Homo sapiens: one gene and its partners. The protein of the gene in region 1 purifies or fractionates together with the protein of each later gene. This does not show direct contact. Each region holds a gene or a part of one and is shown on either strand. Other genes may lie near its edges.

The links.
Region 2: the proteins of SLC6A1 (region 1) and RABL3 purify together in Homo sapiens (affinity purification with mass spectrometry; 2 studies listed by BioGRID and IntAct, with this or other methods). This does not show direct contact.
Region 3: the proteins of SLC6A1 (region 1) and NT5C3A purify together in Homo sapiens (affinity purification with mass spectrometry; 2 studies listed by BioGRID and IntAct, with this or other methods). This does not show direct contact.
Region 4: the proteins of SLC6A1 (region 1) and NPTN purify together in Homo sapiens (affinity purification with mass spectrometry; 2 studies listed by BioGRID and IntAct, with this or other methods). This does not show direct contact.

The regions. Positions count from the first base shown.
Region 1 is NC_000003.12:10,995,745-11,002,771, forward strand, and holds part of SLC6A1 (sodium- and chloride-dependent GABA transporter 1), read left to right. Parts: intron 1-7,027. UniProt on the Homo sapiens protein: Mediates transport of gamma-aminobutyric acid (GABA) together with sodium and chloride and is responsible for the reuptake of GABA from the synapse. The translocation of GABA, however, may also occur in the reverse direction leading to the release of GABA.
Region 2 is NC_000003.12:120,684,422-120,690,527, reverse strand, and holds the end of RABL3 (rab-like protein 3), read left to right. Parts: intron 1-40; coding exon 41-79; intron 80-424; coding exon of another isoform or gene 425-466; intron 467-639; coding exon 640-705; 3' UTR 706-5,590; downstream 5,591-6,106. UniProt on the Homo sapiens protein: Required for KRAS signaling regulation and modulation of cell proliferation. Regulator of KRAS prenylation, and probably prenylation of other small GTPases. Required for lymphocyte development and function. Not required for myeloid cell development.
Region 3 is NC_000007.14:33,059,777-33,067,495, reverse strand, and holds the start of NT5C3A (cytosolic 5'-nucleotidase 3A), read left to right. Parts: upstream 1-4,719; 5' UTR 4,720-4,790; coding exon 4,791-4,928; intron 4,929-7,719. UniProt on the Homo sapiens protein: Nucleotidase which shows specific activity towards cytidine monophosphate (CMP) and 7-methylguanosine monophosphate (m(7)GMP). CMP seems to be the preferred substrate.
Region 4 is NC_000015.10:73,560,390-73,567,416, forward strand, and holds part of NPTN (neuroplastin isoform b precursor), read right to left. Parts: exon of another isoform or gene 6,549-7,027; intron 3,397-6,548; exon of another isoform or gene 2,990-3,396; intron 2,869-2,989; coding exon 2,847-2,868; intron 1,582-2,846; coding exon 1,521-1,581; 3' UTR 1,507-1,520; intron 660-1,506; 3' UTR 1-659. UniProt on the Homo sapiens protein: Probable homophilic and heterophilic cell adhesion molecule involved in long term potentiation at hippocampal excitatory synapses through activation of p38MAPK. May also regulate neurite outgrowth by activating the FGFR1 signaling pathway.

The DNA of each region.
Region 1 (7,027 bases):
GTTGCCTAGCCCAAAATGTGCCCACCTTCCCCTTGACTACCACCCCCGCCCCAGCAGCCCCTCTCCTCAGCCACAGCCCCAATGCCAAACCCAGTTAGAGCCACTTCATCCCCTCTCTGCCCAAATGAAAACTAAAATGCAAGCGTCAGCAGGCCTGTCTATGCCTGTGTCGGGACTACCCCTTCAATTCACCCATGCAACGTCGCCTGAGCTTCTCTGTGCCTGGAGAATGGTGGGCAGGGTATAGCCCCGCTGAATGACAGCAACCTCGAATTGACTTCAGTTGCCAAGAGCATTGGGCACTTCCCCCACAAGGTGAAAAGATCATCCTGTGTCCACTGCTCTGTGGCTTGGCATGCCTCGATGCTGGCTTCTCAGACAGGCCCTGCACGGGTGGCTCTTCTTGCCAACTTTACCCCATTCTCTGAAGGGCACTGGGAGATGGAGGGGAAGAGGTTGGTGCTTGAAAAAGAAAAGATTGGGAGGCCAGATGTGCACCCCAAAATAGGACTTCCCAGGAAATGGGTCTCAGTGAGCATATTAACATCCAGCATCTTCATCTACTCCATGCTCACCTAAGACCTCTGGGGTCAGGGGAAGGGGCTATGGAGTCAGTGGGAAGTGGGCCAGTAGCAGACAGGAGAGTTGCCTGGCATAGGCAGTAGGTGTGAATGCAAGCTGTGATATTTCAGCAGAGACCTGGAATTCAGTCATAAACAGAAAAGAAAGAAAACACTAAATATTGTTCCAATGCAATTGTATCAAAAACAGTAATAACTGTCAGTTACTGCATGTTGGCAATATGCCAGGGACTGTGCTGTGTGCTTTATATCGTTGCAGTTAATTTTCACAAAACCCTGTGAGATACGTAGCATAATGATCCCTGTCAGGGTGAGGAAACTGAGGAGGAGAGGGGCTAAAGCACTTGCTGCAGGATCACTGGGCTGGTAAATAGCCTTAAAGCCCAAACTCAGTCACAGCATGCTTAAATCTCTGCCACTAAAAGCCCCTGACACTGCTTACTTGGCAATGACCATGAGCGCCCCCCGCTGCCTCCACCCCAGTTAAGGAGCTGCACAGTTTACAAAGCACTTCTTCATCCATTCCATCTGTGGAGCTTTGCCACAGCTCTGGGAGGCTGGGTGGCATGATAGCTTCTGCGTGATAACTGGGGAAGCTGACTTGCAGAGAGATGAATTTGTGCCCAAGGTCCCTCAGCTGCTAGGTTGCAGAACTGGGGTTCAAATTGAGATGTCCAGCCTGTTACAACATATTTGGGACCTAGATTTTAAATTCATTTGCAGCTAGTGCTGATGTCATGCACTCAGCCACCTTTCCCTAACTCTCGGGTATCCCCCAATTTTGTCCCCACCATCTTACTGCTCAGGAAGCTATTGAGAGTGCCCTGACAAAGCCATCAGCTGCATTTACCGTGATCTGACATGACACAGAAGTGGCATCCGATTCTATGCAAGCTGCCTGCAGCGAATGGTCTTCTATTTTTACATTTCTCACAAATTGGAAATTACAAGGAGGCCAGGTCTTGCAGCGAGATTGGCTGTGGTGCTCTGAAAGCAGGGGATGTACAACTAGGTGGAACAGGCCACTTTAGGATGCCAGGGGCACTGTTGGCTGTGAAAGGGGCCCCCTGGCTGCTGGGGCTGGATGGGATCCTGGCACACAGGCCAGGCTTGGGGATGCAGGAGTTAGTGACTGCCTTGGACGGTGACCTGCAGCTCTGCCCACCTGTCAGCTGCCTGGTGTCTGCAAGTTCTGTGTCTCACGCCAGCTCCTGAGATAACTGAGCCCTGGCCAGAGGGACATTCAAGGTCAAAGATGCCCTGAAACATCGACAGCAGGTTGCTTTCATGGCTGTGTAGTTTGATAAGGAGATTCTGTGCAGGGAGAGGGCAGCAGCCACAGGGAGGTGAGCAAAGACATTTGGTATCAGTGTTGCGGTTTGCTGCAACTTAGCGCTGATCACGATACTCCCGGTCATCAGAACCGCACTTTATACTTTGCTAAAAATGCTCTTGCAGCTGCTTTTTCTTTTGATCATGTATGAAGTATTCCAGGGGAAGAAAATATGGTCCTTGAGATCCTGGAGAAGAATCCTCTCTCCAATAAAGAGTGATTTTTTTAAAGCTAGTTTTCTTATAAAGCCCAAATCAGAATGACCTTGACCCAAATGAGGCTCCTTTGCACACATGTGCGTACATGCACACGTTAACACTTATGTAGAATTTCAGTTTTCAAAGTGTTTTCTCAGTCGAAGCTTGTGACAGCCCTGGGAACTTCAAGTGAAGGTAATTTTATTGTTATTATTGGTACCATTATTATCCCCATCCAAAAGATGAACCTGAGGCTCAGTGAGCCCTGACTCCTCATCTCTGTCCCCTAGTTTCCCAGCTGATGAAAATCACCTTTGCTAGGCTGAAATCCAAGTTCACCAGGTAGCCCCTTGAGAAGGAGCCCAGATGAGGCCAGATCTGGTAGGAGGCAGAGCACAGAGCACTCAAAGATCGAGACTTACAAGAGAGCGTGGGAAGGCACGGCTGTGAGGCTGGGGAGAAAAGGGCCGTAGCATCTTGTAACCTTACCTGAGCTCTGGCCAGAGATTAACATCTCCTTGGTTATGCGCAGAGTTTGGGGTCCAAAGTGTGATCATTTGGCCGGGGGGTCCCAGCAGTAACCAGGCCTGGAGGGAGAGGAAGGGATGGTTGCTCTCACACACCTATGTGCACACAAGAATGCTTTTCTCGGTGAATTGGGGGAGAAATGAACACCAGGGACCCCATGAGATTTCATAGAAGGATCTAAAGGTCTTGGTAGCCAGGAAGGTTGTGGGGAGTGTTTGTATGTGAGCCTCAGCTCAGACCCACTGGAGGAGCAGGCTGTGTGCTTCTGAGCCATGCCCAGGCAAGAGGGCAGGGATCACTCACCTCTGCCTTTGGACTGTTGCCATGCTGGAGATTGTGAAATATCATGAGTTCTAGGAGCTTCCCTCTGGGGTGCAGGGGGAGGCAAGAGACCTGAGGGTTTGACAGTTCCCTGGCTGGATGGTGGGGAGAGAACTTGTCCAGCTGGGCCCTGACAGTGAGTTCAGAGGGCCTGCTGGGCACTGGTCCCTGAGCCAAGGCTGATACTGGATGATAGGTGCTACTCTCTCCTTCTGCCAGAGAGGACCCTGAGCCCAAGGGTGGTGGAGTCACTTGCCACAGGGTGCACAGACCAAGTTTGGTCCCAGGTCTTGGTGATGCCAACCTCATGCTGCTTCTGAAAAGCACCTGAGACAAGATAACTGTTGGGGAGCCAGGGGCTTTTTCTCTGTATTCGCCATTTCTGGCTGTGCCATGCAAGGGCTGAGAAAAAGTGAAAGCAATACAAAATAAAAGTGGCCAAAAGCAAAAGCTACCAGCTTCCTGGGCACCGTCTGAGCTGCCAGCCTGCAATCCAGGCTTCACTGCCGCCTGAGCTGACCAAGCCCCTTTCCGCCCAAGTCAGATGTTTCCAGAGCTTAAGATCCAGGACCCACCTATGATTAAAAAAATAATAATAAAAAGTAGGCCTGGGGAGAGAGAAGAAGTCATCTTACTGAAGAGTATTTTTGAAAGATGGAATTTAAATGCACGCATGTATTACATATGCATTTTTAGCAGGTTGGTTCAGCATAATGACACAGAATGATCTGATATGTACATCTCTCAGTCTTGGGCTCTGCCTGTGACCTAGGCACTGAGCCAGTACTTCACAAGCATTGTCCCAGGATCCTCAATAAGGAAACTGAGGCTCAGGGAGCTCAAGAAGTTGCCCAAGGTCATACCACTGACACAGGGCAGAGCTGGGAATCAGATCCAAAGCTGCAGGGCTCCGAGGCTTGGGCTTGCAGACCTGAGAAAGAAGTGGGAGAGCCGCCTTCTGCTGGGCCTCAAGCCTGTGGGGGACCGTGGGCAGGTTCTTTCCCCTCTTGGCTTTGCATGCTCAGTTCATACAGCCAAGAGGTTTGGACCATTGGATAGGATGATCGGCTGCTCCCCGCACCAGGCGCCAGTTCTCCAGGCAAGGGGAGGGAAGTTGCACGCCCCACTTCCTCCTCTCCTCCTCCATTTCCCCCATAATAGCCTCCCCGAGACTAATGACTGAGGAAGATAAGAGCCCTTTCTCCAAATGGCAGTGAATGCCACTAATGACAGAGCAGATGCAGCACTGTTAATTATTCCACGGGTATTAAATGAAAACGCCAGCCCTGGAGGAGTTAAATAGCACCACTGATCTGGCAACGTCTGTGCTTAAAAGTGATGCCATCAAACCGGGCCGGGGCAGAGCAGCCCCCTCCCCAAACTTGGAGCTAGACAGGAGTCACAAAGTAAGGGTCCCCTCATTGGTCACAGACCCCTCTTCAGCTCAGGGTCCGAAGCAGCTCCTTGGAGACATGGATCGGTGGCTGCTTTGGGAGATTTTCTTAAAGGCCCCTGGGGGGCCTAGACTAGTTATCCTTAGGGGCAGATGTGGACAAACAATTGGACCGAATAAAACTCTGAGCACCTACTGTGTGCCAGGTCCTATTTTGGATTGTAGAAAGAAACTGGATGCTGTTCCTGCCCTTTGAAGATCCACTTGCATTGAAAACCGTAGATTCCTTAAGAGCAGGAATGCTGTGTTGTTTGGAGTCTCTGGTCCCATAGTCAAGAACACAGAGTGGGTACCTCTGTATTACTTTGATTATCTGCTGGTTCCTTGAATGAGAGCCAGAGGCCACACAGATTGTGGCCAGAGTGAGATCGGTGGGCAGAGGGACTGGGCCAGGGTCAGGCTGTCTTCTTCAGGTACAAGCAACATGACCTTCCTGGACAGCTTAGCCCCAGGTTCTGAAACAAGCCATGACCTGGATGAAGAGCCGGGTTTTCCACTTGCTGAGGCACCACAGGCGACTCCTTTGCCCTCTCTGAGCCTCAGTTTGCACATCTGCAAAATGGGGAGGATAAGGGCCATGATGGCTGCAGGCAAAACAACTGTCTCCTAACCAATCCTGGCCCTGAATCTGGAGGATCACAGAGACCTCATGAATGTTTGAAGAGTGACATTCTGGAGGAAATTCAGCAGAGAGAGAGAGTGTAGTCACCAAAGGCAGCATCTGGTTCTTCCTGTGGGTCTCACTCAAATCTCACTCCAACCCCCAATTCATCTCCAGCAGCTCAGGTCACTTGTTCCCAGCTTCCTGGACCTGGAAAGCTGTTTCTCAGGTCTTTGTAGGCTAGAGAACATCACAAAACCCACCCATTTCAGACACACCTGTGTTATAGATGGGTAAACTGAGGCCTAGAGAGGAAGAGTCCTAGGTCTTGCAGAGGCTAGGACCCAGAGCTTCTAACCCCTAACCCAGTGCTCTTTCCCTTCCACCAAGCCAGCCCAGCTCCTCCGTTAAGAAATTATTAAATAGAGTTGGTGGAAGGACTCTGGTTGCCGTGACAACGGAGCCTGTGTCCTCGGGAGATAATGGCGTTGCACAAGGCAGAGCGATGTGTGTTGAATGCTGATTCAGGACCTGCTAGAGTGAGAGTGAGTACAAGAGGAGAGTGGAGGGGACCGTGTCTAGAACTCGAGCTTCCCCAAGAAGGAGGTGCGGGACTGGTAGGGGTGGGGCAAATTGCCTTCTCTACTTCCATCCTTCCTACAGCCTTGTCAGAATGGGATACTTCCCTGCACTTCGTGGAGGTGCAGAGTCAGGTGAGGAGAGGTGAAGTGACTCATCCCAGGTCACACAACCAGGAAAGAGCCAGAGCTGGGATTATACCTCCAACCAACACGGGGGCCTAGGCTATAGGGAGGGCCTGGAAGGAGGCTCACCTGCAGGGGCAGGGGATGGTTGATGGAGACCTCTCTAAAGTCTTAAGTGCTTGTGGAGGTCCTGATGGTCCAGGAATGACAATTCCAGCCCAAGAGGAAGAGAAAACAGAATGTCAGCATAGCTAAAAGCATCAGCTTTGGAGCCAAAGTCACATCTCTCCCTGCCACTTACTAAACTGTGTAATCCTGGATGAGTCACTTTCTCTCTGAGCCTCAGTGTCCTCATCTGCAAAATGGGGATAATGCCGGCACCTACCTCATAGGATTGTGGTGAGACTGCATATCATGAGGAAGATAAAGCATCGAGCCCCAATCCTGGCCATAGCTCAATCACCAGCAGCTGTTGTTATGAACCAAAGGGGAGAGGCTGGGAAAAGGATCCACTCCCAACCATGTATCAGCTTGTAATTTGTGGTGTTGGAAGAGCGAAACTGGCTAACACAGTACAAGCATGATACATAACAGGGCTCTTCATTCCAGGCTAGTAAATATCACTAGAACAAATGAACAGCTCCATCACCAAAAATATACATAAATATTTTGCATTTGAAGAGTGTGAATGTTGTACCTCACTGCAAATGTACTGTCCTTAAAAACCTCCATGCACACCTCACTGAGGGAATGTGTGTTTTCTCTGTGCCAGCTATCTAAATGACCCCATGCTGCAAACGCTTTTGGAAAATAAACACTCTCACCCACCCACCTAGTTTCTCTTCTAGAAGCACAGCTGGTTCAGTGTACTTACCTCCCTAATCAGGGATTGGAGAACATGGGGTTAATACCCTGTGAAACCCCAAAGTGCATCATTTGCATGCTGGCAAAGATGCAGGCTGGCAGACAACCCCATTCCATTTTGGAAGCGGAAAGAGGGTGCTGGACTCAGGCATTTGGCTGTTTGAAAAGCGCTGGTAAGAGCTGGGATCCTGATGATTGAGATGCAAGCAACCATTTTGTTTGTTTCCGCAAACCTGTTTGAGCAAATCCACCCCCAGAGATAGCAACCTGTTTCTGGGTCCCCTGAGAGAGAGGGTCATTTGTTTGCTGCTGTTTCTGGGGCTGGATGCCAAGCTATGAGGCAATGAGCTGACGACCTTGGATCCTGACACCCCTATTCTATGCAGGCAGGAGAAGGGTCAGGGAGACTGATTCAGTGAACAAATAAAGACGGTTGACATTTAAC
Region 2 (6,106 bases), about 110 Mb from region 1:
GGTATGTGTGCTAAGCCTTTAAAATCTTTGTTTTTCACAGGTCATAGAGAAGAGATACTTTTTAAGAGAAGGTAATCAGGTTGGTATCTCTTTTCTTGATAAAATAGATTCTTAAATTTTGATAGGTGATTTCCAAATTTAAGTTCAGAAGTAGTTTTAAAAAGTTGGGGAAAGCCCTTTATAGGCACAAGCAACTGATTTCCTTCTATCCTGTTAAATACAAAAGGAGAAAATCAGAACAAAGGGAAAATAAGGATCTAGGAAACAAATATAATCTAGGAATAAGATTACATTATAAAATAGAAGAAGAAAATAATTTGCTTGGGACTCCAAGAGTATACGTTCAGGGTCTGTCACAATACAAATAATTTCTATAAAAGTCTAGTAGGTATTATGAGATTTACCTTCATTCTTTCTGATTTAGATGACACTATCACCAATTTGTTGGGAAATGTTTTCCATTTGGGTAAGATTTATTTTTATTATTTAATCTGTGGTTTTCTGAGTAAAACCTCAGAAAGTTGTTTTTTTAAGAAACAGCAGGCTGACATACAGAAATGGAAAAGAAGGGAAAAATTACTATTAGTATTTGAACTTTTATTGCTTGAGACTTAATGCAATTATCTTTCTTGCCTACAGATTCCAGGCTTTCCTGATCGGAAAAGATTTGGGGCAGGAACATTAAAGAGCCTTCATTATGACTGAATTACACTCATCCTTTGGAAGAGTGAGCAAGCAGTGGCAGTTTTTCACAGCTCATCTTGCTGTGTTCAATTATTACCATCACAGCCTTTTAACAAAATCATCTTAAAATGCTACCCTTCAGCCTTACCCTTTAATGGAAAAATGAAAGGAAGTGACAATACGGGAGGTCCAAACTTTGTCCCTGTTCTCTGTGTTCCTTACCTTTCTGTCCCTGTGTATAGATTATGTAAAAGCCTTGTGTAAATATGAGATGTTGTCAAAATGATGCAGTAAATGAGCAATGACAGTGTACTGCAGAGAAAATTTACTCTTGCCTAGAACTGGAGGGTTTTTATGGGTCTGTAATTTTCCCACACTCATTGCTGAAAGCTTAATTAAGTACTTCAAAAACGTATCTCCATTGTTTTACCTTCTTGAGGGGAACGGTCTTGTTAACCAGCCCTGAGTTGTCTACCCCAAACAATCTCTGTCATTTTCAAAGATGCAAAATGGTGTTATTTAATTGTCTCCACCATTGTCACACACAGGAATGCCTAATAATAGCAACCCTTGTCTCCCTCTTCTCTCCTTTGCAAATGGCTCAGTGACTGGAAGAGGCGGACTAATAGCCAGAGTTAAATATAAATACAAATTAATAATACATAGAGAACAGCAATACCAGAAAAAAAGAATTCTGGTAAAATGATGTGAAAAATTGACAGCTCCCTCACTCTTAAGGTTGCTGCTATATACAGTCTAGGTTTTCTGTTTGGAAATAGGTAGGGTAAAATCTAAGACCTGCACAAGGGCAGTGAGAGACATTTACAGCCTCCTCTCTATTTGTTTTTTTAAGGAAAAGTCAACTCCTGAAATGTCCCTTAGCTATAATCAGAAAACTAAGAATATTATTCTGTGTCAACAATGTATTTATGGAGAGAAGTAAAAATAAGTTCCACAGCAACACATTTACATGAATTATGAACTAGGATTCTTGGATTTCATAATCACTCCAAAGCTTTTTGGGGATGGTGTGTGTGTGTGTGTGTGTCCGTAATTGTTCATCATTACTTTTTTTAACCTATCTTTTTGCTTGCTTAATCTTCTCTGCCCCAGTTCTTCCTGAGTATATGAATTTGATTTCTAAAAACAATTTATTCAACACTCTATCACCCGTATTCTCTCTCTGGCTCTGCTGCAGGTCTCTGCACTCCTGATTTTGCTCCATACTTTTAAATAACAATAATAAATATACAGTTTTCATTTCTCATTTAAAAAATAGGTGGAAAACACCAAATTCACTTTCTGTTCCATTTTAATTAGGTTTCAGAAGTATCTTGGAAATCAAGGTATGCTGCAAGAGGATATTAAAATAAGAATGTTAGAGAGTCCTTTTAGAAAGGCAGTCTTGGGAATTTGGAAAAGGATTTTTAAAGCAGCTTTCATCAGCTAGACTGTTCTCCAGCCTTTCTTTACTTCCTCTTTGAAAGGACATAGCCCTGGTTTCTTTTTGACACAAAGGAAAGCTATGCAAATCATGATCTGTATGTAGAATTGGTCACAAGTATGTTGTTGCATAGGCTGTACAGTTGGGAAGTAGAAACCAAATGCTACCCAGAGACCTAACCCAATTAAGCTCTTTGTATTTCTCCTTCAAGAAATAAATCTTCCTTCCTTCTTTCTTCCTCTTTCTTTTAATTTTAAAAAAATTCATCCTGATTTTTTTATTTTCTATCTTATTTAAAAAATAAAAATAGGCCAGGCGCGGTGGCTCACACCTTTAATCCCAACACTTTGGGAGGCGGGTCGATCACTTGATATCAGGAGTTTGAGACCAGCCTGGCCAACATAGGGAAACCCTGTCTCTACTAAAAATACAAAAATTAGCCAGGCCTGGTGGCACGCGCCTGTAATCCCAGCTACTTGGGAGGCTGAGGCAGGAGAATCACTTGAACCTGGGAGGTGGAGGTTGCAGTGAGTCAAGATCGTGTCACTGCACTCCAGCCTAGGTGACAGAGTGAGACTCCAACTAAAAGAAAATAAATAAATAAATATATAAATATATAAATAAATAATAAAAGTAAACTATTGCTGATGACTCCAGGGTCAATCTGGAAAAATTAACAGTATTCCTCAACTCCATTACTTTCTGCAGCCAAGCTTGATTCCTTGAATTATAGTTTTCTAAGAAAAAATAGTTTTTAATAATCTAAGGTAAATTTGTTGCAATTATTAGCAGCAGCATAATAAGGCTTTTTGCGCAAATGAATGTTATTAGCTAGAGTTATTCAAAAAAGAATGAAGCACAATTTTTGCTAGGACTTCTTGAGAACTATTCATAAAAATGCTTTTAGATAATAAACAAGTATAAATGTCAAAATATTTTTTTAAAAGTATAATTGGCCAGGTGCTGGCTCACGCCTATAATCCCAGCACTCTAGGAGACTGAGGCAGGAGGATCACTTGAGCTCGGGAGTTTGAGGCTGCAGTGATTCATGATTGCACCACTGCCTTCCAGCAGCCTGATGACAGAGTGGGACTCCATCTCTTTACATATGTATATCTTACTCTCTTGATGGGACAAGTTGGTAGAAATAAAGATTTTTTTTTTCTGTTGTGATTTCGGTGTCTGACCAATTTTCTGACTCATTGTGAAGGTGACCAGATATGAAGGCATATATATGACTACTCCTCTGTCCCTTAGGTGTATAAGACTTAGCTGGAATCCAACTAAAGATTTGGGCTGGTCTCTCCATCTTAACGTTGATGGGATTCAGGACACATAACCCCAAAATATTGCACCCTGTTATTTGAGAAAACTGCAGAAGCAAGGTTTCTCATACCTTCCCCTTACCCCTTCTCCCCTGAAGCAGGCCATAAACCCTAAGTGACTGTTCCCTGAAGTAGATCATAAAACCTTCATTCCATAGGTACCCTTTATCCTCACAGATACAGAGACACCAAGAAGAATCTGGACAAATAGGACTTGCTAAGTTCTCCACAGTTTATTACCATTAGATTATGTCCTTTTGTCCTCTGATTATACTTCTGCATAAGACTGTACATAAAAATACACAAGTTTTCCTATTTCTTTTTTGTCTTCATTTCTGAAGATTCCTGTCATGTAAAACTTACAGTAAATAAATGTGTGTGCTTTTCTCAATAATCTGTCTTTCGTTATAGGTGCCTCATTTGTGAACCTAGTGATGGGTGAAGAAAGAAAGCTCTTCTCCGCTACAGTGCTCTAAGAAAAGCTATTCCCAAAAGAGTTGATCCATATTAGCTTTAGCTCGGGTTCTTAGAATTCCTCAAACTTGAGGCATTCATGATATAATCCAGGTGCCCTGACACTTGTTTTTCTGTTCATTCTGACATGGACTTCATGGAAATGATGTGCAGGGACATCAGACTGAGGTGAAGAGCTCCTAATTGCTCCTTGTAATCAGAGTTTCTGAGTCCTCATTTCAATAGTTTGCAGTAGCACCCACCATAGGTAGGACCTTGTATGGGTTACTAGATGGTGGCTTAATTGAATTTTTTAAAGCACAGGTGACATCATATTTTAAGAAGTTTAAAGGTCTAACAGGGTGTCTGCATTGGTTTAATATATGTTAAAATTCAAAGGAGGAGTCTGTTTTGGGGAAAGGAGGAGAAGGAAATTAGAAATTCATTTCTCCGCAGTCCCAAGACTGAGCTAAATCACTGTGGTGGGAGAGGAAGGGTCGCAGGAAGTCTAACCCTGTGTCTCAAATATTTCACAACATGTTTGCCTACACAAAATATCTGATGTTAGGGTCAGCTGGGGCTGCTCCATAGCATAGTAAAGGAATTGGACATCCAGTTACAATTAATCTGCACCTCCATTAAGGACTCACATGGAGGGCTTTCAAACTCTGAAGTGTGTAAGAATCCCCTGAAGTGCTTGCTGAAAATGCAGATTCCACGATTTCCTCTCTCTTCCCTTACTCTCCCCTTTCTATATGTATAGGATAAGGCCAGGATTTTGTATTTTTAACAGACAAGCCAGATTTTTCTCATGCAGATAAGTCAGGATCTAGCCTTTAAGAAAGACAAATAAACTCATCAAAAAGTAGGGAATATAGATTGTGAACTCTGTACTTTATGAGTGCCATTATAGCAGAATTCATCAAAGCGCATCTTTGACTGCCTCAACCTGATCTCACCTTAATGAACTGATCCACTCCTCCCCACTCAAAGCTACATATGCCAAATTAAACATGAGATGATTGTCATGTCTTCTGTTGGCAAAACAAGTATTTGTCTTTCATGTATTGCTATCATTTTTATTACTGCCACTGTTTTTCCCCTGGGTTCTGTTTTTAATCCAAATATATTTATTTCTAACCAGTGCCTTGCCATCTTACACACAGCCCCCTCTCTAGTACTGTGTTTTCTCAGCTGGCTAATCACTAAGCTTTACCGAGGTCATCAATAACTAATGACAAAGAATGGAACCCCTAAACTCCAACCAAGGTGTAAAACCTCGCTCAGTACCATCAAGTATATCAGGTAATCTCTCCGTTCCATCTTTTTCTCGGAGACATCTGTCCTGGAGTCCTCTGATGCCTAACTCCGTTTTGGAGTGATTACTCTGTAGACCTGTCACACCCTGCTTCACATTACCTTGTAGCAATTCCTGGATGTAATGTTTTCCACTTTCTATCCAACTCTTACTCTATGGGACTTGGCTCAGACATAGTCTTCTCTGGGAAGCCCTCCCTGGCTCTGCTCGTCTGGGCTACGTGCCCACTAGTGCTTCCCCTAGATCCCTGGGCTCTTTCCTGTCAGAGCACTTACACTATGTTGTGATGGTTTTCAAAAATTGTTAAATAAATGAATGTATAATTACATTAATTAAAATGGAAAGCCATTAGACATAGAATCAGAACTTATCTGTAGCTGTGTAAGTTATTTATTCTCCAATCCCAGCAGGACATGATGGCTTATGCCTGTAATTCCAATACTTTGGGAGGCTGAGGCCAGAGGATGGCTTATGCCTGGGAGTTAAAGGCTGCAGTGAGCTGTGATGATGCCACTGCACTCCAGCTTGGATGACACAGCAAGACTCTGTCTCTAAAAAAAAACATTAAGTCAGGTGCAGGAGTTCACGTCTGTAATCCCAGCACTTTGGGAGGCTGAAGTGGGAGGATTGCTTGAGCCTAGGAGTTCAAGTTCAGCCTGGGCAACATGACGAGACCTCATCTCTACTAAAAAATTTTTAAAGTAGCCGGGTGTGGTGGTGTGTGCCTGTAGTCCCAGCTACTCAGGAGGCTGAGATGGGAGGATCGCTTTAGCCCAGGAGGTTGAGGCTTCAGTGAGCCATTTTTGTGCCACTGCACTCCAGCCTGGATGACAGAGAACCTGTCTCAAAAAAAAAATTAAATAATAAAATAATATTTTAATA
Region 3 (7,719 bases), on another chromosome or scaffold:
TATATATAAAATATATATTTTATATATACTTATATAATATATAAATTATATATTTTATATAATTTATATTATATAAAATATATATAATATATATATCTTTATGTCCATGAGTACTCAATGTTTAGCTCCCATTTATAAGTGAGAACATGCAGCACTTGGTTTCCTGTTCCTGCATTAATTTGCTTAGGATAATGGCCTCCAGCTGCATTAATGTTGCTGCATATGACATGATTTTGTTCTTTTTATGGCTGTGTAGTATTGACTCATGTCCATGTACCACATTTTCCTTATCCAATCCATTGTTGATGGACACGTAGGTTGATTCGATGTCTTTGCTCTTGTGAATAGTGCTGTGATGCATGTGTCTTTTTGGCAGAATAATTTCTTTTCTTTTGAATATATACCCAGTAATTAGATTGCTGGGTTGACTTGTAGTTCTGTTTTATGTTATTTGAGACATGTCCAAACTGCTTTCCACAGTGGCTGAATTAATTTACATTCCCACCAATAGTGTTTAAGCATTCTCCTTTCCCCATGGCCTCACCAGCATCTGTTGTGTTTTGACTTTAAAAGCCATTCTGACTGGTGTGAAACGATATCATATTGTGGTTTTGATTTGCATTTCTCTGATGACCAGTGTTGTAGAGCATTTTTTCATATGCTTGTGGGCCATTTGTATGTCTTCTTTTGAAAAATGTTGTCCTTCATGTCAAGGGCAGTATGGTCACTTTTTAATGGTTTTTCTTGTTGAGTAGTTTGAGTTTCTTATAGATTTTGAATAGTCACCCTTTGTCACATGCATTCTTTGCAAATATTTTCTCCCATTCTATAGGCTGTATGTTTAGTCTGTTGATTATTTGTTTTGCATTGCAGAAGCTTTTTAGCTTAATGAAGTCCCATTTGTCAACTTTTGTTTTTCATTTTTGTTGTTTCCTTTTGAGGACTTAGTCATAAGTTCTTCGCCTAGGCCAATGTCCGGAAGAGTTTTTCCCAGGGTTTCTTCTAGGATTTTTATAGTTTCAGGTCTTACATTTAAGTCTTAAATCCATCTTGGTTAATTTTTGTATACGGTGAGAGACGGGGGTCCAGGTTCATTCTTCTGCATATGGCTCTAAAATTATCCCGGCACAATTTATTGAATAGGGTGTCCTTTTGCCAGTGTATATTTTGTCAAATATCAGTTTGCTGCAAATATGGGGCATTTATTTCTAGTTTCTCTATTTTGTTCCATTGATCTATGTGTCATGTCTATTTTTATACCAGTACCATGCTGTTTTGTTTACTATGGCTTTGTAGTATAATTTTAAGTCAAAATGTGATACCTCCAGCTTTACTCCTTTTGTTTAGGATTGCTTTGTCTATTTGGGCCCTTTTATGGTTCCACATGAATTTTAGGATTGTTTTTTCTAATTCCATGAAGAATGACATTGGTAGTTTGCCAGGTATTGTGTTGAATCTGTATTTGCTGAATATGTATTCCTGAATCTGTATTTGCTGAATCTGTATTGTTGAATTTGAATTGCTTTGGGCAGTATGGTCATTTTGATGACATTAATTCTTCTAATCCTGGAGCATGAGGCGTTTTTTCCATTTGTTTGTGTCATCTATTCTTTCTTTCTTTTTTTCTTTCCTTCTTTCCTTCCCTTTCTTCCATTCTTTTCCTTTTTCTTGAGACAGGGTCTCACTTTTTTTTTTTTTTTTTTTTTTTTTTTGAGACACAGTCTTGCTCTGTTGCCCAGGCTGGAGTGCAGTGGCATGATCTCGGCTCACTGAAAGCTCCACCTCCTGGGTTCATGCCATTCTCCTGCCTCAGCCTCCCGAGTAACTGGGACTACAGGCGCCCGCCACCACGCCCAGCTAATTTTTTGTATTTTTAGTAGTGACGGGGTTTCATCGTGTTAGCCAGGATGTTCTCGATCTCCTGACCTTTTCACCAAGGCTGGAGTCCATAATCATAGCTCACTGCAGCCTCCAACTGCTAGGCTCCAGCAATCCTCCCACCTCAGCCTCCTGAGTAGTTGGGACTACAGGCATGCAGTGTCAGGCCTCTGAGCCCAAGCTAAGCCATCATATACCCTGTGACCTGCAAGTTATATGCCCAGATGGCCTGAAACAAGTGAAGAATCACAAAAGAAGTGAAAATGGCCTGTTCCTGCCTTAACTGATGACATTCCACCACAAAAGAAGTGAAAAATGGTGGGTCCCTGCCTTAACTGATGACATTACCTTGTGAAATTCCTTCTCCTGGCTCATCCTGGCTCAAAAGCTCCCCCAGTGAGCACCTTGCGACCCCCACCCCTGCCTGCCAGAGAACAACCCCCCTTTGACTGTTAACACATTTTCCTTTACCTACCCAAATATTACAAAACGGCCCCACCCCTATCTCCCTTCACTGACTCTCTTTTGGACTCATCCCGCCTGCACCCAGGTGAAATAAACAGCCTTGTTGCTCACACAAAGCCTGTTTGGTGGTCTCTTCACACGGACGAGAGTGAAACGCAGCACCATGCCCAGCTAATTTCTTTGGTTTTTCAGGGATTGTAGAGACAGGGTCTCGCTATGTTGCCGAGACTGGTCTCAAACTTGTGGCCTCAAGCAATCCCCCAACCTTGGGCTTCCAAAGTGCTGAGATTACAGGCACCAGCCACCTCACCTGGCCTGATTTCTTTCATCAGTATTTTGTAGTTCTCCGTGTAGAGATCTGTACTAGTCTGTTTTCAGGCTGCTGATAAAGACATACCCCAGACTGCGCAATTTACAAAAGAAAGAGGTTTAATTGGACTTCCAGTTCCACGTGGCTGGGGAAGCCTCACAATCATAGTGGAAGGCAGGGAGCAAGTCCCATCTTACATGGATGGGAGCAGACAAAGAGAGAATGAGGAAGACGCAAAAGCGAAAACCCTGATAAAACCATCAGATCTCCTGATACTTAAGTCACTACCACGAAAACAGTATGGAAGAAAACACCCCAATGATTCAATTATCTCCCACCAGGTCCCTCCCACAACACATGGGAATTATGGGAGTATAATTCAAAATAAGATGTGGGTGAGGATACAGGGTCAAACCATATCAAGATCTTCCATGTCTTTCAACAAGAATAATTAATATGTTAATTCACATAGAAGCTGAAATAGTCTCCAAACATGGCCAACCCTCTTAGATTCAGAAACACAAGGTTTACACTTATAAAAAACATATGGACCCCTTTCCTCCTGGAAATTTACTACCAGGGTTTGTAGTCTAATTGACTATACTCCTACAGCTTTAACATCTCATATAGATGATAATCAGACCTATGATATAGTATAACTAGTTAAAATAGAAATCATATTTCAGAGTACCCACATTCTTCCCATGTGCAGTTGACGGGCCATATTACAAAAACAAAATTTGGAACTCCATTTCTGTTTTAGATTGTCCACAGCTTCAAGACGAATGTTATCGTCTACAAAATGTTTAAAATCCTGAAATTATAGAAACGTGGCTTTAGTCTCTACCCATTCAAAATAATATGTAATATATGGAAAATGTTTTTGTTGAGGAAGAAAGATAAATGAGACTGTGACCATCTTAGGCCTCACAATCAGACAACATTTAAGTCATATTGGTATTTGGTGCAAAACTGGATTCATAAAAAATTACTTTGGCGACAAAATGACACAGTAGTCTAGATATTGATACTCAAATATTCTGGGTATTAAAACTCAGTCTTCTTCAGGTTATACTCCCAGCTAACTTACTTTGGGACACGTTCTCGGTCTATACTGAGTCTGTGTTCCCAGGCTTAAGTCCTCAAACTTGGCCGAGTAATAAAACTAACCATGATTTCTTTAAGTTTTAGTACCTGTTATTTCACCTTTCGGTCGACAAATCGTTTTTCTCATGTTCCTCTGTCTTACATCAATTTAATTTGTAGACCAGCCAAATGACCTAAAAGGCTAGAAGGAAACAATTTTTCCTCCCCTACAACTATTTCCTCTAGTCCTCCGGCTGAAAGTTGTTCCACGTCCTGGGCAGAGAGAGCCCCACCAGGCAGCACCACCAGCTCCACAGAGTTGGAGCGATTCCCCCAAGAAGCTCCCCTGCGCCCCTCCTCACCCCCAGAGACCAGCAGAAGAAATGGCATCTATCCCTTGGAAGACACTAGGCAGGAGAGAACAACTGCAAGCCCTTCTGCTCACACAGAAAAAAGGATGGCGGAGGTGGCGAATGGGATGTAGCAGAAACCCCGCGGCTGCGGCGGAAGGGACACCGCCCCTCTCCAGCCTAACTCTGAGCCATCTTCCCCCTGTTGTTATAGCACTTAGAACGGACGCCACTGCGCAGGTCACACCGTGCCGCGCAGCCTTCTGGGGGTCGGAGTCCAGAGGGGCTGAGGCGCGAAGGCGGAGACCGACTTCTTAGCGGGCCGCAGTTGGAATTAGATTTCTACTGGGGCGGGGCTCGAGCGAACCACGGCCTAATCCTCATTAGCAGAGAAGGATAATTACCGCAATACTCTGCCCTGCCCTGACAGCAGCTCGTGAGACCCTGAGTCTGCTGAAGGCCGCCTCCAGCCTGGGCTCCGGGCACAGGCCACACCCCTCCCGCCGCGTCCTGGCCTCTCCCATCGATGGCGTGTGGGTGGGGCTTCGTGGGGGCGGAGCTGCGCGGGGCGGGGCGTCGCTGCGCGGGGCGGGGCGTCGCGGGCTCGTCCGTGATGCTCTGGGATCCCGCGCTTCCGAGACTCGCAGTCTACGCGAGCTGCCTGTTTTTTTCCTGCTTGGACGCGCATGAGGGCCCCGTCCATGGACCGCGCGGCCGTGGCGAGGGTGGGCGCGGTAGCGAGCGCCAGCGTGTGCGCCCTGGTGGCGGGGGTGGTGCTGGCTCAGTACATATTCACCTTGAAGAGGAAGACGGGGCGGAAGACCAAGATCATCGAGATGGTGAGTGTGGAGGCTCGGCGCGCCCAGAGCACGCGAGGGGCCGGCTGGGCCGTCCGCTGGCCTCGGCAGCCTGTGCTGGGCCGCTGTTCGGTCGCGACGGGGAGCTGCCGGCGTCGCCTGTCAGGCTGGGATCTCGCTAGCTCGGGACGCGCAGCTTGGGGGACCCGGCCGCCCCGCGTGCGGCCACTCCGCGGGCTTGGTGACCAGGGTTGGGTCCCCGGCTGCGGCCCTTGGCTGCCCGTGGTCTTTGTTAGGTTTCCGTTTGAAGGAACAAGGCAGAAAATAGATGAATCGGACACAGGCTACTTTGTGCTGCAAAACCCGTTTCTCTAGAGATAAGCTGCATGTCCTGGGCAGGTGGCTCCTTCTCTCCCTGCCTTGCTCCCGCCCTCCCCCCGGATCCGCGTCAAACCGTTGCCGCTAATCTAGTTGCAATTCCCGCAGAGGACTAGTTTTATGTTGGGGCTGCCGTGAGTTAGATTATGAAAATGTGCAATATCTAAAATTTTACAAGAATGGCAATCCAGGAGAAATTCAGGATAGTTTATTTTGTATTTGAATGTATTCCTTCTTGTCTCAAAACTCCCACGAAATATCTTTGTTTTCATCTTAACTCCCAAAGCTCTTGTATACATTTTCGAATTTAATTTTTTATTGAAGAGGGTGTCTCAAGAATTCCCTTTGAGATACATTATAAGTAATTGTTTCAAAAATGAGGATATTTAGTTTCGTTTTGTATTTTAATTAGAACCCACTCAGGAAGACAATTCTTGCACAAACTTGCACGCTTATGTATTTCCTGAAATGCATAATCCTGGGTATACGCCTGACCGTGTGCTATACATGTGAACATCTAGGGTCAGATGATTTATGATAGAAAAAAATTTAAAATCTACACTAAATAATATCATTTTAGGGTGTAATACTTGGAATTTCTGAGCACCTGCAATATGTTCCAACTGACGAAAGACACGATTTGTCCTATTGGTTGTACTGACCCCAGGTTGAATACAGATGTATTTGCATAATTAAAATTAGCCAGTGTCCCAGCTATTTGGGAGGCTGAGAGGAAGATCACTGGAGTCTGGGAGTTCAAGGTTATAATCACACCTGTGGATAGCTACTGCACTCCAGCCTGGGAAACATAGCGAGACCCTGTCTCTTAAAAAAAAAAGTTAATTCCCACTTGTCTCATATTCCAATAATATTCCCTAATTTTGAATTAATTTATTCTTAAAGGGTCTTAATAATTCTAAAGGCTTATTAAAATTCATTTGTCCCACATCTGTATGCCCACAGCAGCAAATGGTTTTAACTCAGAAGTTTCATTTTGCTTTTGTTGCTTTCCTGCTTAGAAAACTTGGCTTTCTTTTGCCCAAGGTTAATAATGCCTATGTAGGGGAAAAAACCGAGTTGCCATATCTCCCTGCCTGTGCTTAAACTATGGATTGGTCTGTATACCACTTATCTAAGCCAAGTAAGGTTAAAAATCAGTGTGTTCACAAAATCCTTCAATGATACCATCATAGGAACAGTTTGCTATCTTTGTGACAAATAATGAAGACCTATCTAGAATACCAACTTATTGGTACTAAAGAAATCAGTCAATATTTACATGTATGCATAGTATATTAATTCAGATTGTAATATATGTGTAGCCTGCTAGTAGCTTTTCAATGGAAAAAGTGAAAAGAGCTTCATGTTAACTTTTTTAATTTTAATAGGTTGCTTCTTCAAGTGGAAGAAGTATTTGACTGGGGGTCAGAAGACCTGGGTTGGAATCCTAGTTCCATCTTTCTGTAATAATGTAGGTCTGCTCTGCCCATCCTCTGCCCTCCTCCCTCAGAAAAATCTCTGCAAACCCATGATGTCCAACAGACATAGCTCATATTGGTCACAGCTAACGGAGTTAACTACCTAACCAAGTTGGGCCTATCTAACTGGCTAAGAAAACCAATAACTTCTGGGACTTGGTCAAAATGATGCATTGTCTTGCAAGAGTTTTTAATTGAGAGACATGAGGAAGTTGCTAGTGGGTTGTGTATGCTACAGCTGAAATATCCCATAGGGCAGCAAGATTAATGTACAGAAGAAGCCAGTCATGGCTAGGCATGGTGGCTCACACCTGTAATCCCAGCACTTTGGGAGGGTGAGGTGGGAGAACCCTGTCTCAAAAAAAAAAAAAAAAAAAAAAAAAAGAAGGAAAGCAAGATACGGAATGGGATCAAGAAACTGAATTGTAAAGGAATTTTGTAAAGCCATTATAAAGAGTTTGCTCTTTATTTTGCAACAAAGGATCATCAAAGGTTTGCTTTGGCAGGGTACAGTGGCTCACGCCTGCAATCCCAGCACTTTTGGAGGCTGAGGCGGGAGGATCCCTTGAGCCCAGGAGTTCGAGACCAGCCTGGGCGGCATAGGGAGACCCTTTCTCTACAGAAAATAAAGATTTTAGCCAGTGCAGTGGCACACACTTGTAGTGTAGTCCCACCTACTTAGGGGCCGAAGGTGAAATCTCTTCAGTCAAGGTGGTCGAGGCTGCAGTGAGTCGTGATCACACCATTGCACTCAAGCTTGGGTGACAGAGTCACCCAGAGTCTCAAAACAGAGAAACAAAAAACCCAACAGTATGTTTTATGAAGATGAGATAAGGTGGACTGGAAGGGAAGATCCTGGAAAGAAATAAATTTAGGAGGTTGGTAGTATTGCTTGCGAAAGATGATTAGAGATCTTAAACTATGGCACTAGCAACAGGTATGGAAATAAGGGATCAGGAGACAAACATTTCCGAGAT
Region 4 (7,027 bases), on another chromosome or scaffold:
ATCATACGTATATACTGCAATTCATTATACCCATTCAGTGGACTGTTCCAGCTTATTAAAGTCACAGGTTAAGCCCTTAAAATTATAGATTTCAGTTTATATTACTCATCTTTATGTACCAGAACTGCACAATTTCCTCATCTGACAACATACAATAAGGAATGAATATCAGCAGCTTAAAAATGAAACAAGCATTTACTTTATTTTGGATTTCTCCCACCCCCAAAAATATAAATATATATATATATATATTTATATACTGTATATATCTGTAGGTTTTGCTGTACTTTACAAAAGTGTATCACTAGATGGCAGCAGTGCATTTTAGAGCTTTGCCAATTTAACAGCTGCATTAAGTAAAAAATGGCGCATGCATGATCTGATCCTCAGAGGACCTTTTCACTTCTATTTAAATATTTTAACAAAGGAAAAAAAAAAGCAACATTCACAGCACATCAAGCCCAAAATAGTTTACACCTTCTACACTGAAGCATTGTTTAAAATGTACCTGGCTAGATCACCCTTACAGGAGAGGCTAAATAAGGCATGCTTTAGACAGTCATTGTGGTGTTGCTCACTTGAAAGGGGAGAGAACCAAAGAGGTCCAAGCAGAAAATTTTAGCAGGTCATGTTGCCACCAGTTTCAGGAACCTAAAGATCTGTAAAGAAATATGTATTTGGAAATTATAAAGGGATTATGCACTGTCACTCACAACTACACCGTGTGCCACACAAAACTTTGGTTCAAACAGCACGCTCAGGGATGTGGTGTGAAATTCTGATCTCCATATGCCTAACAAGATGACATTCTGGCCCTGCTGCTACCTGGCCATTCTTGTCTTGCCCCCAGACGTGAGGTAAGACTAGTAGGCCTCTGGGAATAAGCCACCTAAGAAGGTGACAATTTTCACCTCTTTGTAAAGATATAATAGTAGTGAAAAGTGTTGATTTTAAAATATGTCTTCTGAAATGGCATTTATATAAACATGTGACACAATGCACCTGATGGCGGGGCACACTGGCTCATGCCTGTAATCCCAGCACTTCTGGGAGGCTGAGGCAGGCGGATCACTTGAGGTCAGGAGTTCAAGACCACCCTGGCCAACATGATGAAACCCCGTCTCTACTAAAAATACAAAATTTAGCTGGGCATGGTGGTGGGCAGCTGTAATCCCAGCTACTTAGGAGGCTGGGGCAGGAGAATTGCTTGAACCCGGGAGGCGGAGGTTGCAGTGAGCCGAGATCACACCACTGCACTCCAGCTTGGGCAATAGAGTGAGACTCCATCTTAAAAAATCCAAACAACAACAAAAAACAACGCAGCTGAAAAATGTTCCTTTCCAGTCCCTAAACTGGGCAGACAGAACTGGCTTCATCAGTATCAGCTGCTCTGAAATGAACTAAAATATCTTATAACACCAATTACTGAAGAATTTGTAACAAGGTCAATAGAGGCACATTCATTTGAATATAATTTTTAAGACTGCTACAGAAGGCCATACTTACATTGTAAGCAGTACTTAATTTGTGTTTCTCTGGCGCAAGTTTTTATCTTTGTGATTGTTGGTAGAGTTGGTTTTCCTTTGGAGGAAAAATTGCATTACATGAGTTAAACTCAGTCAATAACTTTTCAAAGTATAACACATGGAAATACAGGGACTCTTTCACTTACTGCCATCCCTGGTGTAGTGAGAAATTTTGTGGCACAATATGAGTGCATAAAAAAACATTCCTTAAGTAGCTACAGGTTAAGTATCCCTCATCTGAAATGCTTGGGATCAGAAATGTTTCAGATTTTGAATTTTTTTAGATTTTGGAATATCTGCATTATACTTACCAGTTCAGCATCCCTAATCTGAAAATCCAAAATTCAAAATGCTCCAATGAGCATTTCCTTTGAGCCTCATGTGAGCACACAAAAAAAACTTCAGATTTTGGAGCATTTCAGATTATGGATTTTGGTAGTAGGTAGACTCAACCTGTATATACCTCATTTTATCCTCCTTTTGACCCCCAAGGCAGACGAGTACTTTCCCTTCGAATCCGGAACTATAATTACGATACAGGTGAGAATATGTAAAACTTTTCTCCACTGAACACAACACCACTGTCCCTTCTTGATAAAAGGTAATCATAAGCTGGCAGTGCTGGGCCCTCTGGTACTTAACAAATTTGGGTGCTGTTTGTCTGCTTCTCACTCTTTAGTCCAACTCTAGGAGATTCTGCCGATCTTAGATTGATTCCATACCTGCAGTACCCTCTCTCTTGGATACGAGCAATTGTTAATGGGGCTAGACAGTTTATCCAGGCTATAGTTCAGCCTCAAATTGCATTACATGAGTTAAACTCGGTCAGTAACAACTTTTGAAAGTATAACACATGGAAATACAGGGACCCTTTTACTACCATCCCTGGTGTAGTGAGAAATTTTGTGGCACAATATGAGTGCATAAAAAAACATTCCTTAAGTAGCTACAGGTTGAGTATTCCTCATCTGAAATGCTTGGGATCAGAAACGTTTTAACATTGACAAAACCGGGAGCCTCAGATATACTGGCCATTTCCCCCACATTTTAAGTATATCAAATACACAAAATTTGAAAAAAAAAAAAGTTTTTTGCATGGTATTCCACTTTGTATGGCCACTGGAAAACAAGACTGCATAACCTATCCTGAGAATCAAGTGGTTTTTAGTCAGATCTGTGTCAAGCTAAGAAATCTACACTGCAACCTTCATTTCCACTCACTGTCTTCCCCTCCAATCTTAGCTACTCCATTTGATTAAACTGCAAACACAACATCATTCAATCAGATACTGTTGAATCAATGTCCAATAAAGTACTTACATTGGTCCAGCTGGTTCATCATCTACATGGTGTTCAGTTTTTTAAAAATCCATGAGAGATAAGAGAAGAAAGGAGAAAACTGTTAGATTCTGCATAAGGATTAACAGAATAGCAAACTGCAAGTGGCAATCATGGCTACTCACAGCATTTATTAAAGGCCATTCCATCTGGAGGTGCAAAACACTCATGGAGTTATTATTTCTAGATTCAAGTTTAAATGGCAGGTATGTTGTTTCAATGGTTTTAGTTAACACTTTGAATGCTTGTCATGAAAAACTGCAACTGTAGCGGACAGATAGGCTGCAACATTGTTATACTCATCTTGTCCCCAAGTTCCAGTGGTTCACTCTTAAATAGATGAGAAGACAAACCAACATTTCAGTTGTAAAATCCTGCTGTTTGTTTTCTTGTGGTGAATGCATGCAGTTTTGGCTCAATCCTGCAATGTGAATGGATGTGTACCATCTGTACATTTAGCCACACATCCTCACTTCCCCAAAGGGCACTCTGTTTTTCTTGCTGTTTTGTAATCTTTAGAAGAGTCTTTAGTCTGGAGAATGAGATTGAGAAGAGGCAATCACAATAGTTCAACCTAAATTGGGTCAGCCATGCTGGGCTATGCCAGCAACAAGTGTATGTATACCAGAGGATGTTCTGTGACACACCGAGGAAAGCTGAACAGTGGTGACATCCCTCTAGAAAAGACTTCAGAAAGACAGGCTCACTCCTGTGCCCTGGCCAAAACCAGAAGCCAAACCCAGGGGAGCCATGAGATAACTTTTTTAAAATCAAAAAGCTGACATTATATGAGTTTAAGCCTTCTTAAATTGATACTTTATGATTCTGATTTATAAGTCTTTCGTGTTTCAACTAAGTGCAACTTGATCCCCTTTAAGCAGAGATACACATTCACAGAGAGAGAATGTTTTAAAAAGACCCACAAGGGGAAGGGAACAAGTAAGTGCTCTTAGTTTGTTTTTATTATACAAAAGTCAGGTAAACTAAATGATTCAGAACAGTTTGATTTCACTGAAGGCTTCTAGAAAAATTCTCAGCAGGATTCCACAAGGGGGCTTGGTGCACATGAAGCAGTTATGGAGATTACAGTCTCAGTGTAGGCATCTGCAGGAGCACATGTCGGGAGTAATGTCTGTCAGAGGGAGACATTGCTCCACCTGTTCCTTCGAGGCAACGGAGAGGCAAAGCCACCGCCAGCACACACAGTGACTGGAGCAAAAAAGGATTTCAAAAAAAAGAACTAACCACAAACCAATGACTCATCAGCCAAAACAATAGGCTAGCGACACACTAGTGTCCACAGGAGTCCACTACTAACAACAGTATACACTATCAAACGGGTACAGAGAACAAACTAAGACTTAAGGACACCCAAGACATCTGTGTGCTGTGTATGCAGTGGAGAGATACAAAGACATACCAGGTACTAAGACACAAAAGCCCAGCCTAAATTCTCCCCTCACAACATCCTAATGCTCAGCATCCCGGCCAAGCCAGCTCAGCTACATGCTAGGAACTAAGCACTTTGGGGATTTAAATGAAAAGACATAGGAGCAAACTTGGAATACTTTTAGTGCTCTGGCTGTGCACTCGAAAATACAAAATTCTAATGCAAGAGAGCCGAATCAAGAATACACCAATCTACTCCCAAATTTAAAATAAAAAGCAGGGGAGGGAGAATCGCAATAGCCAGGCTAATCTTTTCAAAGCATGACACTGTAGGCACCAACCCAAGCACCTCACACCACGGGCTGTTTTTCCTTTTGGAGTGTGGGTATTCCCTGGTGTCTGATTAGTAATGTCACTTTCCAGCCCAACAAGCTGGTAACATGCAAAGGGTTGCATGGAGGTGTTTTAGCGACAGTGCCTCCGGCATAGCTGCCATGCCTGCAAGTGGGAGCAGTTGAGATTCACAAGGGGGCAAAATCCCAGGAGCCCTCTTCATCTGTCTCCCCAAATCCACTTTCACACTGACAAACAAAAGAGCCTCATGTCTCCCCACTCTCCTGGACTGAATCACTATCTGCAGCACCACTCTCCCCTACAGGTCAGACAAAAAAACGACTTGACCCCTAACAGGGAAGTCAGGGGAGAGGGAAAGAACAGAATTACAGAAAAAAGATACAGAAACCAAAGTAAATGAGGATTAAACAGCAAACTGAAATCCAAATTAGTTGTGAAAGTGAATGAAGTAAACTTGAAGAAAAGTGTTAACATTATGAACTGTGCATCGTATAGACTGAAGCGGAGATTAAACAAACTCCAAAAGCATGCATATCGCTCACTTACCACCATGTTTTAAGGGTTTGATGCAATTGAGGGGGGAAAAAAAAGAAGTCATAGTAACCGACAAATATCAACATACCCCAAACCCTCAGGCCAAAAGATAGCCAGCTTAAACAATGACTGTTCTCTCCACCTCAGTATTACAGCCACTGGCTAGATGAGAGGAAGAGGACTGGGGGGATAATGGAAACAAGATGCTTCTGGAATCCACCTTATGAGAGTGAAGTTACCGGTGGAACTGTAGCACACACTGATTTATCTGCGTGTTCCATCTTCCCAACCGAATGGACCACAGCCCTCACTCCCCCTATATCCGCCTCATCATCTAGAAGGGGTGCTCTGCAATGTCTAGTAAATAACGGATTGCCTAATACAATATCACCTCCAAAAAGATGGCTTTAAAGTCCGAATAATGAAGAGTTGACTCTCTGGTCAAAGGTCCTTTGTCACTGCATTCATCTCACTAGAAGGTTTTATGGTTTCTAAATCCACTTAAATTTTGCCTGACCTTAGCAGGTTAGCATTAAACCCAAGAGAGACTGAGTTACTTCCTATTTCCTTCCTTGTTTGGTCCTATTGCATTTTCTCCATGAGGTAACTTGTTATTGACCCAGATGGCCCCTAGTTAACAGACCAGACACCGAATGCATGTTTTAGGTGTCATTTTAAAAGTCACATTTCTTTTCCAATATCCCTAGTCTGTATAAAGCTTCATATGCTACCAAATGTTTTGACCAACGAATAGATTTTGGAACATTAGAACAGCTCTTCATTCTAAAGTGTCTAAAAGAGCTTGGATATATCAGAGCCACTAAAAATGGCCCCCCAAAAAACCTCAAATATCTTCTCCATCAGTAACTTAAAGAGAGTCCCTTTGACTTGCTTATAAAAAATTATCCCAAGGTAAAAACAGAAAGTTCTTTTTTGGTACCAGCACTTCTTTTCTTAAATCAGCTCCTGTTTTAATTTGCTGTCTGTGAGGTCACTAAAATATCCAGAAGAACTGCAGGCCTCAGCAACTAAGTGGGTTCACTCCCCATTCCTCCAGGGCCTGGGGAGGGGAGACTCAGGAGCACAGGCTGACTGCTCCTGGAGTGCAGTCCGCAGGACACCAACACAGAAGGTGCACCCAAGCAGGTGCCCAGCTGTGACATGGATGGAAGCCTAGAGGCTGCTAGCTTGACCTGGTCTTTTTAGAGAACTATCATTTAACATTTTCAGGGAATACAGTCAAGTGGTGAGTCAAGTGAACAAAACAAAGCTCTTATTTGACTCCATGATTCACTTGTTCCTGAAAATACTGAAGGTAAAGGTGATCTGTAGATTAGTCCACCTACAAGACAACCTAGTGGGCACTGATCCTCAAAGAGACCATACAGGGGACTAAAGGAATGCAGGTGGGTGTTTTCATGTAGGAAATGGTCTGAGAATACTCCAGTAGGTAAAGAAAAAAGACATGGGGCTTTTTTTTTTTTTTTTTTTTTAAAGGAAGCAGCTAAACCTCAATCCTAAGCATTTTCAATGTGAGAAATCTAAATATTTGATTTTCTAGTGAAACATACTTAAACTAAACTATGTAAGTTCAAATTTGTGCTTTTATACTTTTGTATTGTTCACTTAGTGCTTTTGTAGTAAGGGGATGAGTTACCAAGAACTCACAGACTGCCCAAAATATGACGACTGTGCATTCATATAAAAAAAGTTCAGTGAGTCTGAAATGAGCCATGGGTGTATCTTGATAATAAAGTGCTATTTGGCAAAGTAGAAGTATGGCAGGCCTATAAAAAAATTCCCATTTTCCTAATGGTATAAAAAAAATCCAACACAGAGCCACAGATGGTTATCTGATAGGTAAACACTTATGACCTCTTAACACT